2 separate regions of the Homo sapiens genome follow, and region 1 is linked to region 2. A link means that fine-mapping ties the variant in region 2 to the expression of a gene that starts in the linked region. Tissue or cell type: sigmoid colon. Region 2 holds a variant in brackets; the other region holds the start of a gene. All regions are shown on one strand. Distances are from middle to middle.

The links. PIP is the estimated chance that this variant, and not a neighbour inherited with it, causes the effect.
Region 1: it holds the start of ABCD3, and the variant in region 2 is fine-mapped to the expression of ABCD3 in sigmoid colon (GTEx, PIP above 0.99). The same link has a PIP of 0.9 or more in aorta, blood mononuclear cells, esophagus muscle, gastroesophageal junction, subcutaneous fat and tibial artery.

What each region holds. Positions count from the first base shown.
Region 1 is chr1:94,414,869-94,423,054 of GRCh38, reverse strand. ABCD3 (ATP binding cassette subfamily D member 3) reads right to left here and starts at 4,666. Exons shown (of 23, transcript NM_002858.4): 1 at 4,467-4,666. The coding sequence starts at 4,576. RefSeq lists enhancers at 4,075-4,214, 4,686-5,477 and a silencer at 4,545-4,924.
Region 2 is chr1:94,478,221-94,486,406 of GRCh38, reverse strand. It overlaps ABCD3 (ATP binding cassette subfamily D member 3), which reads right to left. Exons shown (of 23, transcript NM_002858.4): 8 at 8,092-8,148; 9 at 5,801-5,943; 10 at 3,168-3,237. Among named protein-coding and RNA genes, the nearest start is that of F3, 59 kb to the left of the region's middle. The variant A/G (reference allele first, on the strand shown) is at 3,830.

The DNA of each region.
Region 1 (8,186 bases), 63 kb after region 2:
TCCTATTTGGAACAGAGAGTACCCATTGGCAGGCAATGGCATATAAGATTAGCCAGGTAAAGTAAGACCAGATTGAGGGAGGCTCTGAAATCCAAGATGAGAAATCCGAACTCTATTTGACAAGCATTGATAAGAAGCGAAAGAAACTGCTTTGTTCTGTTCTGTTTTTTAAAGATAATAAAATACTATGGCTATACAGACTGGTACCATTCCCTGCCTTCTAAAATTGGCCCACTGATTTCCCACTACCCAGGTCAGGTTATATATGCTCAGGTACACAACTATTACTTCTGCAAAAAGAATGTTTCTATTCATGTTTGTACTAGGCATCTCCAAATGCCTGTCAATTACGCTTAAAAGTTCTTCAACTATCCTATGTCATTTATCCTCTCTATAAACACTGTCTAACCCATGACAGAGCCGAACTAGGGAATTAAAGATGACTCAGTTCATGCCCTCAAGAAACTCAGGATCTGATGTAGGCAAAAGCCAAGAAAACAAACTAGTACAATACAGAATGGTAAGTGCTAGAGTAGGGGATACCTAGAGCAGTAGTCTCCAACCTTTTTGGCACCAGGGACCAGTTTTGCGGAACACGATTTTTCCACAAATTGGGGTTGAGTTGGGGGATGGTTTCAGGATGAAACTGTTTTGCCTCACATCATCAGGCATTAGATTCTCATAAGAAGTGTGCAACCTAGATCCCTCACATGTGCAGTTTACAACAGGTTCACGCTCCTATGAGAATCTAATGCCCCTGCTGATCTGACAGGAGGCGGAGCTCAAGTGGTAATGCTCGCTTGCACAGGCTGTGCAGCTGGGTCCTAACAGGCCACCAACCTGTACCAGTCCACAGCCCGGGGGTTGGGGACCCCTGGCCTACAGTATCATAAAAGCAGAGGACACTTACATCAGTTTGGAAATCAGAAAAAGACAGAAAACACCTAAGACAAAGTGTTGACTGAGTCTTGAAGAAAAAGAAGTATCAGCTGGGCAAGTTGGCTCATGCCTGTAATCCCAGCACTTATGGTTGGATGAGTGGGAAAAGTAGGGAAGGACCACACCATGAATACAGAAAGTTTGTATTTTAGAGTAGATTAATGATTTTAATGAAGGAATATTATGATCATATCTGAGCTTCTTAAAAAGAGCTCTGGTGGCAGTGGAAGATGGATTGAAAGGGCACCACAAAGTTTCTTTCTAACATAAATGCAACAAAAATCTGATAAAGGATGCTGTAACAGTCACTTTATTCCAGTTATCCACTCCTACCCCCTTTCTAGGCTTAACACACATCCTTCATGAAGCCTTCCCCAACCCTTCCCAAACACATTAATCTTGTCTTTCTCAAAACTTCTAAGACATGTCTATCTGTACATTTCATTCTGCTATCAGTGTTTAAGTTTCTTTTCCCTAACAAGAAGGTAAGCTCCCTGAGAAAACAAGTCATATATTTTTGTAATACACACACACACACACACACACACACACATCTTATAGCTCCCAGTACAGTAATATAACATTCTGAAATAGACACTTCCTTTAAATAGCCCTCTTTATCCATGAGTAAAAAGATTCTTCTTTTCCCCATAAATAATAAAATAAAAGGTAAGATTAGGCAAACTAAGGTGAAAAAGTTAGCTTAGCAGTGCTGGAATCAGGAGTGAATACAAGCTGATCAGGAATGAATACAAAGGAACTTTCTGGTGGGATAGAAATGTTCTAATTTGTCATAGGGATGTGTTACATAGTGTATCCATTTGTTTAAAAAATGTACAACTAATATTTGTACATTTCAATGTATATAAATTTTACCTAAAAAACCTATAAAAATAAGGGGTGACAGGCAGGTTGAAATAGATGAAACAAGAATATAGAATGTTGTTGGTACTCCTTGGGTAAAGTGCATTGGGCAATCCTTGTATTATTCTATTTATTTTTTATATGTGTGAAATTTTCCACAATAAAAGGTCAGAAACACACACACATATATATGAGATTTAACTGAGTGAAAAAAATTACATTAACAAAAATTAAAAGTAACCCAGAACATTTAATTACTCATTCTCCCAATGTTTGGAATAATGTTACACTGTAACTTTTAAAGTGATTTTACTAGCTCTATTACCTATCCAATTCTAAGGGAATATATATTCTAAAACCAACCTACTATTAACAACATAGACAAAAGAAGGCCAAGTAGCCACAGTTTCCTTAATTAAGCACCAGATATTAAAATTAATCAGTTCTGTTACCAAAGATATTCAAAAGCCCACTCAAATATAAAGTTAGAATCTTCTAATCTTCAAACTGTGATACCAAAGGTGGTGACTAAAAGATATTTGTAAGCTTCTGGAAGTACAATATCTACAAAAATACACTCAATACCATTTTTAATGGTTTCAAAATAGTTCAATCATTTCACCTCAACAATTTAAACTTCATGATTATCTGCTCAGAATCTGCAATCTCCTCCAACAAAATACTGTGTAAAATAGAGATTTTCCCCACTCATCCCAATGCAAAAGACTAATAATAATCTTTTGTTCAGTACATCTCCTGCTAAAGAATTTAATCCCCACAAAAGCTCACAAAGTTTCTCAAAAAAAAATTTTTTTAGGCATTTTACAATGGCAAATGAGGAGCTAAAATTATTTAATAAGACAAATTCTATTACATTATTTTACTTCTATCGCTACTATTTCCCAATAGATTCTGTTTAAAATTTCCCTTAGCAATAATCTATGGTCTTACAAACTGGTTTAGTAGTTAGGTGGACTGTGACTGGATGGGGGCATGAGGAGAATTTCTGGGGTGCTGATAATGTTCTGTTTCTTGATCTGGGTGCTGATTACACGAGTGTGTTCTACTTGTAAAAATTCTTCAAGCTCTATGTGTACTATATGTATGTGGCATGTATGTGATACTATATCACATATACATATAATCATAAAAGTAATCCAGAACTTGTAGGGCTGTCCTCGAGTCCCCTCCTCCATATTAAAACACCTGTTCTATGCCCTGAAACACTTCTTTGCAAAAACAGAATTCAAGTTAAAGGACCTAACATCTTCTTTCTACTGGCATGTTCCCAGGTAACAGGTAACTTCTATTTGCAACTGGGAGTTCATACAAACCAACAGAAAAACTTGCTTTTTATTTTCCCAAATTAATCCTTTTAAAAGCAAACTGAATAGAAGAAAAATGAGTAAGCGCTGTTATTGCCCAGACTATGCTGCAAATCATTTTCAACTCTGTTAAATGGATTTAGGAAGGAAAAGAAAGATCATCACTTCAGACTCTAGTAAGATAAAAACAGAAGGCGGCTAGAAAGAACTTAATGGAAAGGGTACTATAAACTAGAAGTCTATTTGTGTTTTAGCCCAAATTTTACTACTAATTAGATATTGTAGGCAAATCAAACACGGGAGGCAACAGTACCTGCTCAGAGGAATGAATGAAATAAAATTCATGAAAGTAGTATGTCAAGATTTAATACGAAATATTCAATGACTGGCAAGAACGCTTGGGAAGTAGCCTTTTCTCTTTCACTTGTCCAGCAAATAAAAATTGCATGTATGTGACATACATACCTGTATGTCGCAACCGTAATTCAGCTCTCTCTTTTTTACTTTTTCTGAACTGATAACCTCCCAAAGTTAAATCTAAGCACTGAAATTCTCCCGCGGTGGAAGCAGTGGCGTGTCATTAAAAAGGAGCTTGATCCTCACCTAAACCACACTCTCATCTTTCACCTACAGAGCCCAGGAAGGAAAACATTTCCCTCTAAGTCCGACAGAACCGATCCAGCCTTTCCGGATGAAATGCCACCGACCAAATGTTCACCGACCAAAGGGTTCACCGACTCCAAGGGCTCACCACTTTAGACGGCAATCCTGCCAAGTGGACCGGGAATAGTTTCATAGAAGCCACCCTCGCGACTTTCAATAGCAGTTAGTCGGGAATCGAGCCAAACCTCGTCCAAGTGACTTAGACACCAGCCTCCAGCCTGGCGAATCCAATCCCCATCCTCAATCACACATCCACGTCCCCAAAACAAATCCTTCACGGTCTGAAGATGAGATGGCAAAACCAGAACACACCCAGAAAGTTGACACAGAAGGGGGTGATGTAGGGAAGGGGGTGGGGGACACACCGCATCCCCCTCCCACCCCCAACTGGAGGCCGCTGCCTGAGTGCTGGCTGGGCGCCGGTTCGCCCGCGGGCACAGAAGAATTCGCACTCCCGGGGTGGAGCGAGGTCGCCGGACAGGCCAGCTGGGACCGACGCCGTCGTGGCGGGGACTCGCGGACACCCTGACATTGAAGTCCCACGGCAGTCGCGGTCGGCCCTCTCTCCGCCCGACCCCGTCGGGCAAAGAGACCTGTCGGCCGGGTGGGGAGAGAGAGCGCGCGGGGAGCGCCCGCTCCAGCCCGGGAAAGCTGCACGGCTACGGGCCTTCTTACCCGTGCAGGCCGAGGGCGCGGCGCCGCTTGTGGAGCAGGCAGAGCAGCAGGAACGCGGCACCAGCCAGCGAGGAGTTTCGCGCCGTCAAGTACTTGCTGAAGGCCGCCATGGCACTGCCGGTACCAGCGAGCCGGCGAGGGGACGCGGCGGCGGCGGCGGCGGCGGCTACCTTACTGCACGCAGCGCGGGGGAGACTGGGAGGAGAGCAGAGGGCGGGGCCGGCCGCGCAGGACCGCCCCCTGGCTCGCGCCGCCGCGCCGCCCGCGCTCTGGAGCCCACTTTGTACTTTGGCCCGGCGGGAGCGCGCTCGGCAGCCTCCGTGGGCGGAACAGTTCCCGGGACGCGCTCTGCGCACGCGCGGACTCCTTCAGGGTCTCCGGAAACGCGGCGCGGAGGAGCTGTTGCTACTCAGCCCTGCGAGGCGTCAGTGCTGCCCCTGCCTCACCCCTACCCTCCCACTCTTCGCGCGCACACCCCGGCTTTCACAATAACTGGATGAGCGGGCCTGGCCTGCAGCGACGACCTAGTGGGCCCTGCCTCTCCACTCCCGCGGTGATGTACCGTTACCACCCTCTTAAAGGAGCCCAGGAAGGAGGCGGACGGCCCCGTCACAGAGCGTGTAGGGAAAACACAGCACAGTGATTATCAGGACGAAACCAAACAATCGGAACTCCGCAGAGGTGTAGGGAGATGTGAGGAGAATGACACAGATCAAAGAGCTTTTTCCAAGCCAGTATTTTCCAAACCGCGGGTTATAATCTCTAGCGCATTGTGAAATTGGTTTGGTAGATCGGGATCATCACCCTCCGTTTTTAATAAAATTGAGAATAGAACAAAATAGAAAAGTTTCACAGTACATCACGTAGTAAAGGAGTTGTTTAGAGAAATTTCGATTTCAGTGTTTTGCACGTATGTATCGCCAGCGGCGATGTAAAATGTATGCAGATCTGGTCAGAAAAAAGTTTGAGAAACACTGTTCTTTGCAAAGGGACATTCAGAAGTAACAATCGTGCGTTGTATTAATGCTGGCCTCACTCCCAGAATCAGAAGGGCTTTGCAGATTACAACATTCTTCTCCTGTCTGACCCTATGTTGCAGGAATTGTTATCGCCAGCATTGAGCCTAGCATATATACAGTAACAGTGAATCGCTGTTTTCAGCTGAGGAAACTGGAGAAAAGCAAGTGTGTCAGAAAATAAGCTCATAAAACCTCGCATAATGCACATACATATTAAAGTAGCCTACAAAGTAGTGGTGCTGTGCCCTAGGTGTTTTCTCAATATAAATGAGCTGTTGCCTAATACAGGTTATGAGGATCACAAAGACGAGGTACAATAATGGCATGCGTATAGAGGTGCTCAACAGTGAATTCTAAATTATGCAGAACTGAAGCTCCTACTAATTCACTATTTGTCATGTGGACATTTTCATTACCTGGAGGGACAAAAGGTTTTGGCCCTCTGAAAGTTAACTGAAAACCGCTGACATAAGGCAGATTAATAGAAGAAAAAATTAATAGGAGAAAAGGCATACAAATTTAATGTGTATACATGGGAGCGTTCAGAATGGAGACCCAAAGATACTTGGAAAATTGTCCATTTTTGTGTTTAGGTTCAACAAAGTATGGACAGCTATGTAGAAATGTGATTGGACAAAAATGGTATAATCTAATGCTAACAGACTGAGTGGGGACACCCAGCAAGGCCTGTCTAGATTCTTCTTGGCCTTCTGAGCACCATTCCTTCCTTCTGGGTATAGGGCAGGAATGGAATGGAGCTCTTAACAGCCTACAGTCAAACAAGGCAGGTCAGATAATTTCTTTATGGCCAGATTTTACAGAAAAAGGGGGAGGGAAAACTAGCAAAATATGTTTAGGCTTTTATGGCTGGCTTTAGGGGATAGAGGTTCTGGTTTCTACATCTTGTCTTGAGGAATAGGGATCCTAATATCTATGGCTAGCCTAGGGAAATACGGGACTGAGAGACAGGAGGGCCAGAGTAGGGCAGAGAACTTTTGCTACTGAGACCTTCATTTTGGAGTATTGTGTTGTGAGCCCCAACGACCTCACATAATTTACGTAATTAAGTATGCCTGGCACAGATAACACAAGGATGAACAGATCATGGAGATCATATTCTCCAGAGGCTGTTAGAGAAGAAAAACGTGTAAAAAAAATCAAGTATAAATGTGGTAAGTACTATATTAGAGATATGAACAAGGTGCTATGAGAACACAAACATGAAAATATTTAGTTTTGTCTAATGCTTTCAATAAAGGCTTAAGGCTTGACAAAGGTGATTCTGTAGCTAAATTCTAAAGGACCGCAGGAGTCACTCAGGAGGACAAAACAGGAAATTACTAATTCAGTAATAAAGTGCTAGAAAAGAGTTGGGAACCTTGTGAGAAAGTAACGGTATCATCTTAGAGTTTGTAACAGTGAAGGAAGTACAAGCAAGATTAGTCAAAAACAGTCTAGAAAATAGATTTCAAAACAGTCAGAGGAAAGATAGAAATGATCTATTGACAAAACATTCTAAAAGTTACCCTTGTTCAAGAAGCATGGGAGATTCTAAAAAATTACACTAGTTATTCGAGCTCAAATAATTTTAGCTATTGATAAAGCCCATCTGACAAAAATCACCAGGACCAAATCTGGAACCCATTAAGTTTATTAATTTGCTACAGCAAAAGATACTATACAGCAGAGGAATTGTGGCCATGTCTCAAAAAAAAGGAAGAAATAAGGAGTCATTATAGTATTTAGAGAAAGAGAGGAGTTTAGGTAAAATCTAAATAAAGCAGTGCTTGATAGGCCTAAAGCAAATCAGATCTGTATGTAATATCAAACCTGGGCTGAGAAGCAGATTCAAGATTCTAGTTCTTAGAAACATACATTTAAGATTAATGTAGAATATTGTGTCTGAAAATCCCTTATCTGAACTTCTGCACTGGAAATGGAGACTGCTTCTGTAACTCTAAGTGACTCAAAGAGTTCAAATCTGCCAGGCAAGAAAGGGATGTTCTGTTCTCACTGATAGAATCTCAGAACAACAAACTTTCTAACAGTCTAGGATTTTAGAGAACAAAATTCCTCAGCACTATGTCCTTTGATAATTAACAATGCAATTTTGCAAGTTCACACTTCATAATATTAAATAATAAAGAAAAACAGAAAATGTGATTTTATGGGGGAGATCTCCAAGAGCTCTGATTTTTAAAGAATTTGAGCTACTGAGAACAGGTAGGCAGGGCATAGGAAGTTAGTGAATCTAGAAAGCCTCTGGAAGAAATGTTGTGTTAGCCAGACTCCAAGATTGTCCCTGGTGATCATGGTGTCCTAATATTTATGCCCTCATGGAATTTCCCTCACATCAGAGCTGAGTTTTGTGACCAAAAGAGTATAATGAAGGTGATGCTATGTGACTTCAAAGGCCAGATTATAAAAGGCACTGTGGCTTCTGCCTTGGTGTCTTGGATTGCTTGCTCTTGGGGAAGCCAGCTGCCACAGAGAGCACTCAAAGTGCCCTGGAGAGGAACTGAGGCCTCCCACCAGGAGCCAGACCAGCTTGCTAGCCATGGGAGTGGGCCATCTTGGAAGCAGATCCTCCATCCTCAGTCAAGCCTTCAGGTGACTGCAACCTCATGAGTAATCTCAAACCAGACAGCTCAGCCAAGATGCTGCTAAATTCCTGACTCGTAGAAACTGTGGAAGGTAATGT
Region 2 (8,186 bases):
AATTTATGGAGTTTACATTCTAATGAAAGAGCATAACTAGTAAACAAGATAATTAGAGACTGTAATACAGTCATCCCTCGGTATCCAAAGGGGATGGGATTGGTTCCAGGACCTTCTGGATACCAAAATCCATGGATGCTCAAGTCCCTGATGAAAAATGGCATAGTATTTGCATATACCTGAGTACGACATCCCATACACTTTATTTACTTTTTGAGACAGAGTCTCACTCTGTCGCCAAGGCTGGAGTGCAGTGGTGCCATCTTGGCTCAATGCAACCTCCGCCTCCTGGGTTCCAGTGATTCTCCTGCCTCAGCCTCCCGAGTAGCTGGGATTATAGGCCCCCGCCACAACAACCGGCTAATTTTTGTATTTTTAGTAGAGATGGGGTTTTGCCATGTTGGTCAGGCTGGTCTCGAACTCCTGACCTCAACTGATCTGCCCGCCTCAGCCTCCCAAAGTGCTGGGATTACAGGGGTGAGCCACCGCAACTGGCTCATCCCAAACACTTTAAGTCATCTCTAAATTACTTATAAAACTTAATACAATGTAAATAGCTATTACACTAATGTCTGTATTGTTCAGAGAATAATGACAAGAAAAAAATATGTGTACATAAGTACAGACACAATTTCTTTTTCTGAATATTTTCAATCTGTGTGGTTGAATCCATGGATTTGGAACCCACAGATGCAGAGGGTTGACTGCAAATATATATATACTTTTAAGGAAAGATGATGATTAAAACAAGAAGTAACTGTTGGAGGCCATTTCAAATAGGCTGATCAGAGAAGACAAAGCTTCAATAAGGTGTTAACATTTGGGCTGAAAATCTAAAGGATGAGAATAAGCAAGCCGTGTGGAGAGCAAACTGGTGAACTGCAGGCCCCTGAAAAATTACCTTAAATGCATTCTACCAGTGAGCACTCTAAAAGTTCTGCCATGTTAAATACCGACGAGGCAAAAATCCAATTTCTGAAATAATTTAAAATGACAATTTCTTTAACCTCTTTAACTCATCTAAAATATACATTTAATTTCACAAACTTCAGACTTCCACTAAAATGTAAGCTCCTTAAAGGCAAGATTTTATCCATCATGTCCACCACCATCATCCTTAGCACCTGGAGTGAGCACAGGCAACTAGACGGCATTCAATATCTTTTGAATAAATAATGGAATAAAAGTACTTGAATTCAAATTTTCCAAGTGGCAATTAAATAAAAACTGAAGTAAAGCTTTCACAAGAAACAATGCTTATATTCTTTAAAACAAAAAGCCAGTAAACTCTGACCCATAGTCCAAATCTAGCCTGCTACTTGTTTTTTTAAGTAAAGTTTTATTAGAACATAGCCACACCCACTCATTCATGTATTATATATAGCTACTCTTGAGTAGCGGAGCTGAATAGTTGCAAGACACTGTGTGGTATGAAAAGCCTAAAATATATACATACTATCTTGCCCTTTATGGAAAAAGTTTGCTGACTCTTGCTTTACATAATAATCTTTATTGTATTTTCATGAATGCTTCAGGAACAAATTCTTTCTGTGGGAATCACTAAATAAGGCTCCTAAGCAACCTCTGTAAAAATACACTTAATTTTTTTTTTATGTTTTTGATTATACTTTAAGTTCTAGGGTACATGTGCACAACGTGCAGGTTTGTTACATATGCATGCATTTGCCATGTTGGTGTGCTGCACTCATTAAGTCGTCATTTACATTAGGTATATCTCCTAATGCTATCCCTCCCCCAGGCCCCCACCCCACAACAGGCCCCGGTGTGTGGTGTTCCCCACCCTGGGTCCAGGTGTTCTCATTGTTCAATTCCCACCTATGAGTGAGAACATGCAGTGTTTGGTTTTCCGTCCTTGCAACAGTTTGCTCAGAATGATGGTTGCCAGCTGCATCCATGTCCCCACAAAGGACATGAACTCATAATTTTTATGGCTGCATAGTATTCCATGGTGTATATGTGCCACATTTTCTTTGTCCAGTCTATCACTGATGGACATTCGGGTTGGTTCCAAGTCTTTGCTATTGTGAATAGTGCCACAATAAACGTATGTGTGCATGTGTCTTTATAGCAGCATGATTATAATCCTTTGGGTATATACCCAGTAATGGGATGGTTGGGTCAAATGGTGTTTCTAGTTCTAGATCCCTGAGGAATTGCCACACTGTCTTCCACAATGGTTGAACTAGTTTACAGTCCCACCAACAGTGTAAAAGTGTTCCTATTTCTCCACATCCTCTCCAGCACGTTGTTTCCTGACTTTTCAATGATCGCCATTCTAACTGGTGTGAGATAGTGTCTCACTGTGGTTTTGATTTGCATTTCTCTGATGGCCAGCGATGATGAGCATTTTTTCACGTGTCTGTTGGCTGCATAAATGTCTTCTTTTCAGAAGTGTCTGTTCATATCCTTTGCCCACTTTTTGATGGGGTTGTTTTTTTCTTGTAAATTTGTTTAAGTTCTTTGTAGATTCTGGATATTAGCCCTTTGTCAGATGGGTAGATTGCAAAAAATTTCTCCCATTCTGTAGGTTGCCTGTTCACTCTGATGGTAGTTTCTTTTGCTGTGCAGAAGCTCTTTAGTTTAATTAGATCCCATTTGTCAATTTTGGCTTTTGTTGCCATTGCTTTTGGTGTTTTAGACATGAAGTCCTTGCCCATGCCTATGTCCTGAATGGTATTGCCTAGGTTTTCTTCTAGGGTTTTTATGGTTTTAGGTCTGACATTTAAGTCTTTAATCCATCTTGAATTAATTTTTATATAAGGTGTAAGGAAGGGATCCAGTTTCAGCTTTCTACATATGGCTAGCCAGTTTTCCCAGCACCATTTATTAAACAGGGAATCCTTTCCTCATTTCTTGTTTTTGTCAGGTTTGTCAAAGATCAGATGGTACACTTAATATTATTTTAATAAATCTATGCAATTTTATAAATGGGCACTTGAATATATTGATATGATAGTTTTTAATCTCATATTTTTTATTAAAAATGCAGTATAAAATCCTTTATAGCTATTTTTCAAAAAATCTTTAAGATATGTATACATACGTGTGTGTTTGTGTGTGTGTGTATGTGTGTCGGCCATAGGCAAAACAAACAAACAAAAAAAACCCTTTCCATAAACACATGAACCTCAAGTGTGTTATCTTACCAGTTTTCGGAAGACTGAGTGGACTGTCTGCTTTTCTCTTTTATTCCCATTGTAAAAGGCAATTTCTTCACTATTAAAGAAAATAATTTAGCAATTAATTTTAATGTTACCTATGCTTGGAAAATAATTGAAATACAGTATATGATGGCTGAATGTTTGTATTTAAATGGACATTTTGTGACTAAGAGCTTATCTGGTGCATCTCAAGCCACAGTCTATACCTGAGATTCTGTTCCTAGCTCAGCTGATCGGAGCACAGGAATACACTCCTGACTGAATCATATGCTGGACTGCAACCTATGGCATAGGTATCCTGGCTGCAAAAGACATACTGCACGAATTCTCAGAAATTCGAAATTAGAGAAAGAAGTTGCTGTGATGTACAGAAAGGCAGGGCTGGGACCAACATTGCAGACTTCAAGTTAAAGTACAGGCCCAAACAAGAAAGAGATGAAAAAGCAACAGCTAGAAAAAGATGGATAGTGATGACTTGACATACAGCCTTTTAAAGACAGAAAAGCAGGCTAAGTCCCACCGGCTTCAAAGTGCCAGCTCCCAGGAGGAAACCCTGGAACCCCATCATATCCTCACAACAATTCCACGTTTCCTGAGCAGATGTGCATGGGTCCACAAGGGCCACAGGGATCACGACTAGAAAAAAA[A/G]GGTATTTTATAGATGAAGAGAAGTTCAGTGTAGTTAAGTAAATTTGTAAAGGTTGCAGAGCCAGCAGGTCAGGGAGCTGAAATCATAACTCCTATCTGACCCTAACATTTATAGTCTTTCTATTACACAGGAATGATGTAAGCTTTCCCAGCAAAGTACCTCTTATGGCAGAGAAAAATATTTATAGAGAAGTCTAGAAGGCAAGGTTGAAATATTTCTTTAAAGTCTCTTTTTTCCCCTAAACAATTTATGTTTTATATTTCTATTTTGAAATGGACCTGCGTTTTTCATAAAAACAAGGTACCACCTACCTCAACCACTTCAAGTAAAATTAACTTCCCATAAGATATGACACATTTGTCACGCGTTTCATGGTTTCCTTGACACAATGACAGAGACTCAAGAGTATAAGAAGCCTACAATTCTATACCTCTAATTACTTTTTAAAAAAACTTCCTTCTATCTCCTCTCCACACCTAAGCCTATGGAAGAAGATGAGGTGAGGATTCTCCTCCTGAACTGAGTCATTTTAGCCTTAATGAAAAATCTGAAAGGATAAAACATCCTGGAATATTGATGGCTGCCCATCCAACATCTATTCTCTTCATTGTTCTTCTTCCTAAAATAATCCCAACTTTTGTAAAGTTATCTATTATTTTCCATGTACCCTAATGCTTTAGGAATGCCTCAACCCCATTTAGGGTCCCAACTGGTCTAAGCCAATCACTTTGCTGTGATTGCTTTAGGCATGGTCAAGTAACCATTCCAGCCAATAAGATATGAGGGAAAGTCAGTTGTGGGACTCTTGGGAAAGGTTTCTTTGCTCTCATAAAGACACACCAGGCGAGATGGCCCCTTTTTGTTTCTGGAGCTTTCTGCAGGGGAGAGGAGCTAGTGAAATCTGTAACTGCTATCGCCATCTTGTGGTCACAAGAAGAATTAGCCCGAGGAATGGGGCAGCATACAAAGCAGGGCAGAGCCAAGAGAACACCAGAGAGCCAGAGCCCTGATAATGCCATACCTGGAACTGCCCTGTCTTAAGGGTTCTCACGTGAAGCAGTGAGTGTTCTTATTACTGGAGCCATGAGTCATGCTTTCTGCTTCTTTCACTAAAAGGCATCTTTCATTTACTTGGCAAATCACCTCTTAACTCTATTCCGCTGCCTCCCTAGAGCAAAAAACCCTATTTAAAACTTGTACTATTTTAGCAATCCAAGGAAATAAAGGAAGAGGGAACTGTCATTTGCAAATGCCTATAGAGTAGAATATTAAATACATATTAGAACCCTCAAAATGACTTAACATTAACAGATCAATATATGAGAACATTTATTGAGCAGTTGCTCCATATAAAAAACTGAGCTGGAAGCTTTATATGTATTATCAAATTTAATCCTCATTGCAACCCTATATTATCTACCTATTATAAACAAAAGTGAAACTATGAATAATTCGCTAAAATCAAATACATGCAACTGATAAGTGGAAGAGGTAGATTTTGAAGCTAGTATGGCTGGCTCCAAAGTCCACACTTTTTCTTCCTATCTTACATTTAAAAAACTCTAGAAAATAGGTAGAGGCACATGCAGTGACAGTGAATCATTGAGCATTATGAACAGTCAAAATAAAAATATTTGTGGAAAAATTGAGACAAAATTGTCTTGGAACAGGTATTGTAAGTTGAAATTTGAATTGTAAACTGATTATGTCTGAAGTAAAATTAACAGAAAATTCATCAACAGAAGGTATGAACAGGTGAATCAGGAATACTACATGGTTAGTAAGAAAAAGAGTTCAAAATATTCATGATTACTACTTTATAAAACTAGTCTCTTTCATAATGTATATTTTCAACACAATATGCACATTATTACAGTAACAGTGTCACTAGACTTTTTGGAGTCAATTTAAATGACATCAATATCCATAGAAATTAATTTTTAGCAAGGCTTTAATGCATTTGTCTTTACCTGTTTGTGATGAGCCGAGAATTAACATATCTATATTCTCCTTCATACTTTTGCTCAGTTATTGTCATCTTACCAATGGGTCTTCGAAGTCGAGTTAGGAATAGCCCAGAAACAACCAAGTAGGCCATCATGCTCGCTGGGCCCTATTATTATTGGGAGAGAAAGATACACAAAGTTCTGGGATATAATAATAAATTCACTTAGATACAAACATGTACAATTTTTATAATTAACCTCAATGACTGAAAGAAATTGCCCTACTGGGTAATTTTTTCCCTTTGTTTTTTTTCTGAAAAAGTACACAGTAGCCTCTACACTTTTACTACTCATGGGCTTTTCCTCTTACCACTGTAGCTTATCCCTCAGCTCTCCTACATTTTGCTCACCTAAAAACTCCTAATTGCAGTTCACAGTTTTTCTATGTTATCTAACACTCTCCTGTTGGAACTCTTCTTGATAATCTCTTAAGATTCCACAATAATTCTTAGACCTCTTTTTCTTGCCTTCTTTTTTAATGTTAATATTCCCTCAAACTCCTTCCTTAGTTCTCTTCTCATCTCAAATCTATACCTCTAGTCCTATCACTCTTATGAACCCAAGAAATAAGTACTACACATCTTTACCTTAATACTGTGCAGATGCCTCAAGTTCAGCTCCCCCTGAACGAGCTCTGTCTTTCCCTGCGTGTACATCTTGCTTCCAGCTGCTGTACTATGTATTAATAACTTTGTACGTGACCTCATCACCCATTGACCATCCCAAGAGAAAAAGAAAGGTATGCTTGAAGCATACCTTTCCAAGTTCATCATAGGCACTTCCCTCATTCCCCTATATACCCTATACTCTGCCATACTAAAATATATAAATGTTTCCTGAACAGTTTCCATTCAGTGAGGTTGTTCTTATGTTTGGCAAGCCTGACATAATCTAATGGATGTTTACTTACCTCCCCAAAGTAGCTCAGATATCACCTCCAGTTCTTCTTGGCACTAAATACTTTCTTGAAACTTCTATTACTAAACTTTATCATGCTGCATCATAATTGTTTGACTATCTACCTGTTTTACCACATTGTAATTCCTCTTCAGCAGGAATTGTGTCTTACTTATCTTTTTATTCCTACTATCTAGCACAATATATGTGCTAGTAAGTATTCAAGATTAAAAAAAAAAAAGTAAATCTGATCAATTCAATGCATATCAACAACTACTACAAATGTGGACCAAAAAGATAACTAAAACAGTTTCTGCCTTTAAGAAATGCAGAATCAGATAACAAGTAGACATGGAGACATATTTAAGTATCACAAAAATGTAGTTAAGTACCATAAAAATATGACTGCAAGGAGACAAGAAGGATTTGGCCTATTCACTTGGTTATAGTAAAACAAAATACAAGAATGATAAAACCTGGATCACAAGACAGCAAAGAATTAGGAAAATAAACAGAAAAATTCGAAAAACAAAACAAAGCAAAACCAAAACCCTGCTTTTCCAGTGTTTTGGAAAGCAACAAAAACCAGTATGGAAATAATTTATTAATCAACTGAAATGCATATACACACATACACATATGTAAAACAACCATACTATTATATGGCTGTGTTATAAATATGTAACAATAACATTACATATTAAATGACTAAAGTTACATTTCAATAAGATAACTCAAAGAAAACTTAAAAGTGATTCTTGCCATCACAAATATCAGAGACTTGGATAATAAGGCTCATGGGATAGCCAACCATTTACATTATAAAATATTCTTGGAACTGTTACACCCACTCTAAATGTATCGTTATTTTAACATTAGAATTTCATATTAAAATGGATGTCTCCATATCTCTTTTTAGACATTACTTTGAAACAATAAGTACAAGTATATTCATGGTTTAAGAACTTCTGTTTTATTATTATTTTTTAAAGAAGCGGGTCTCGCTTTTTGTCCAGGCTTGTCTCGAACTCCTGGATTCAAGCGATCCTCCCATCTCAGCCTCCCAAAGTGCTGGGATTACAGGCATGAGCCACCACGCCTGGCCAATACATTTGTCTGGTTTTTAATGCCACAAAATTTTTCCAAGTACCTAATTTAAGGAAAATTAAAAAGAAAAATTAGTACTTCTAAAATCTCGAATGAAGTATTATTTTATAACCAGACTTTGTTAGGTAAATCATGTGAAAATACATTCTTTGAGATCTACAAAAATTCTTACAGGCCATCAAGCTATTCACAATATGTATTTCAAATATTATATTATATCAATTTAAAAGTTGAAATAAAAGCAGACTCACCTGAGCTCCAATTGCACTCGTTAACTTAAAGATATACAAAACTATGTCTAAAAATGGCTGTAAAATAAATATTAGAATACACAGAATTAAAACTA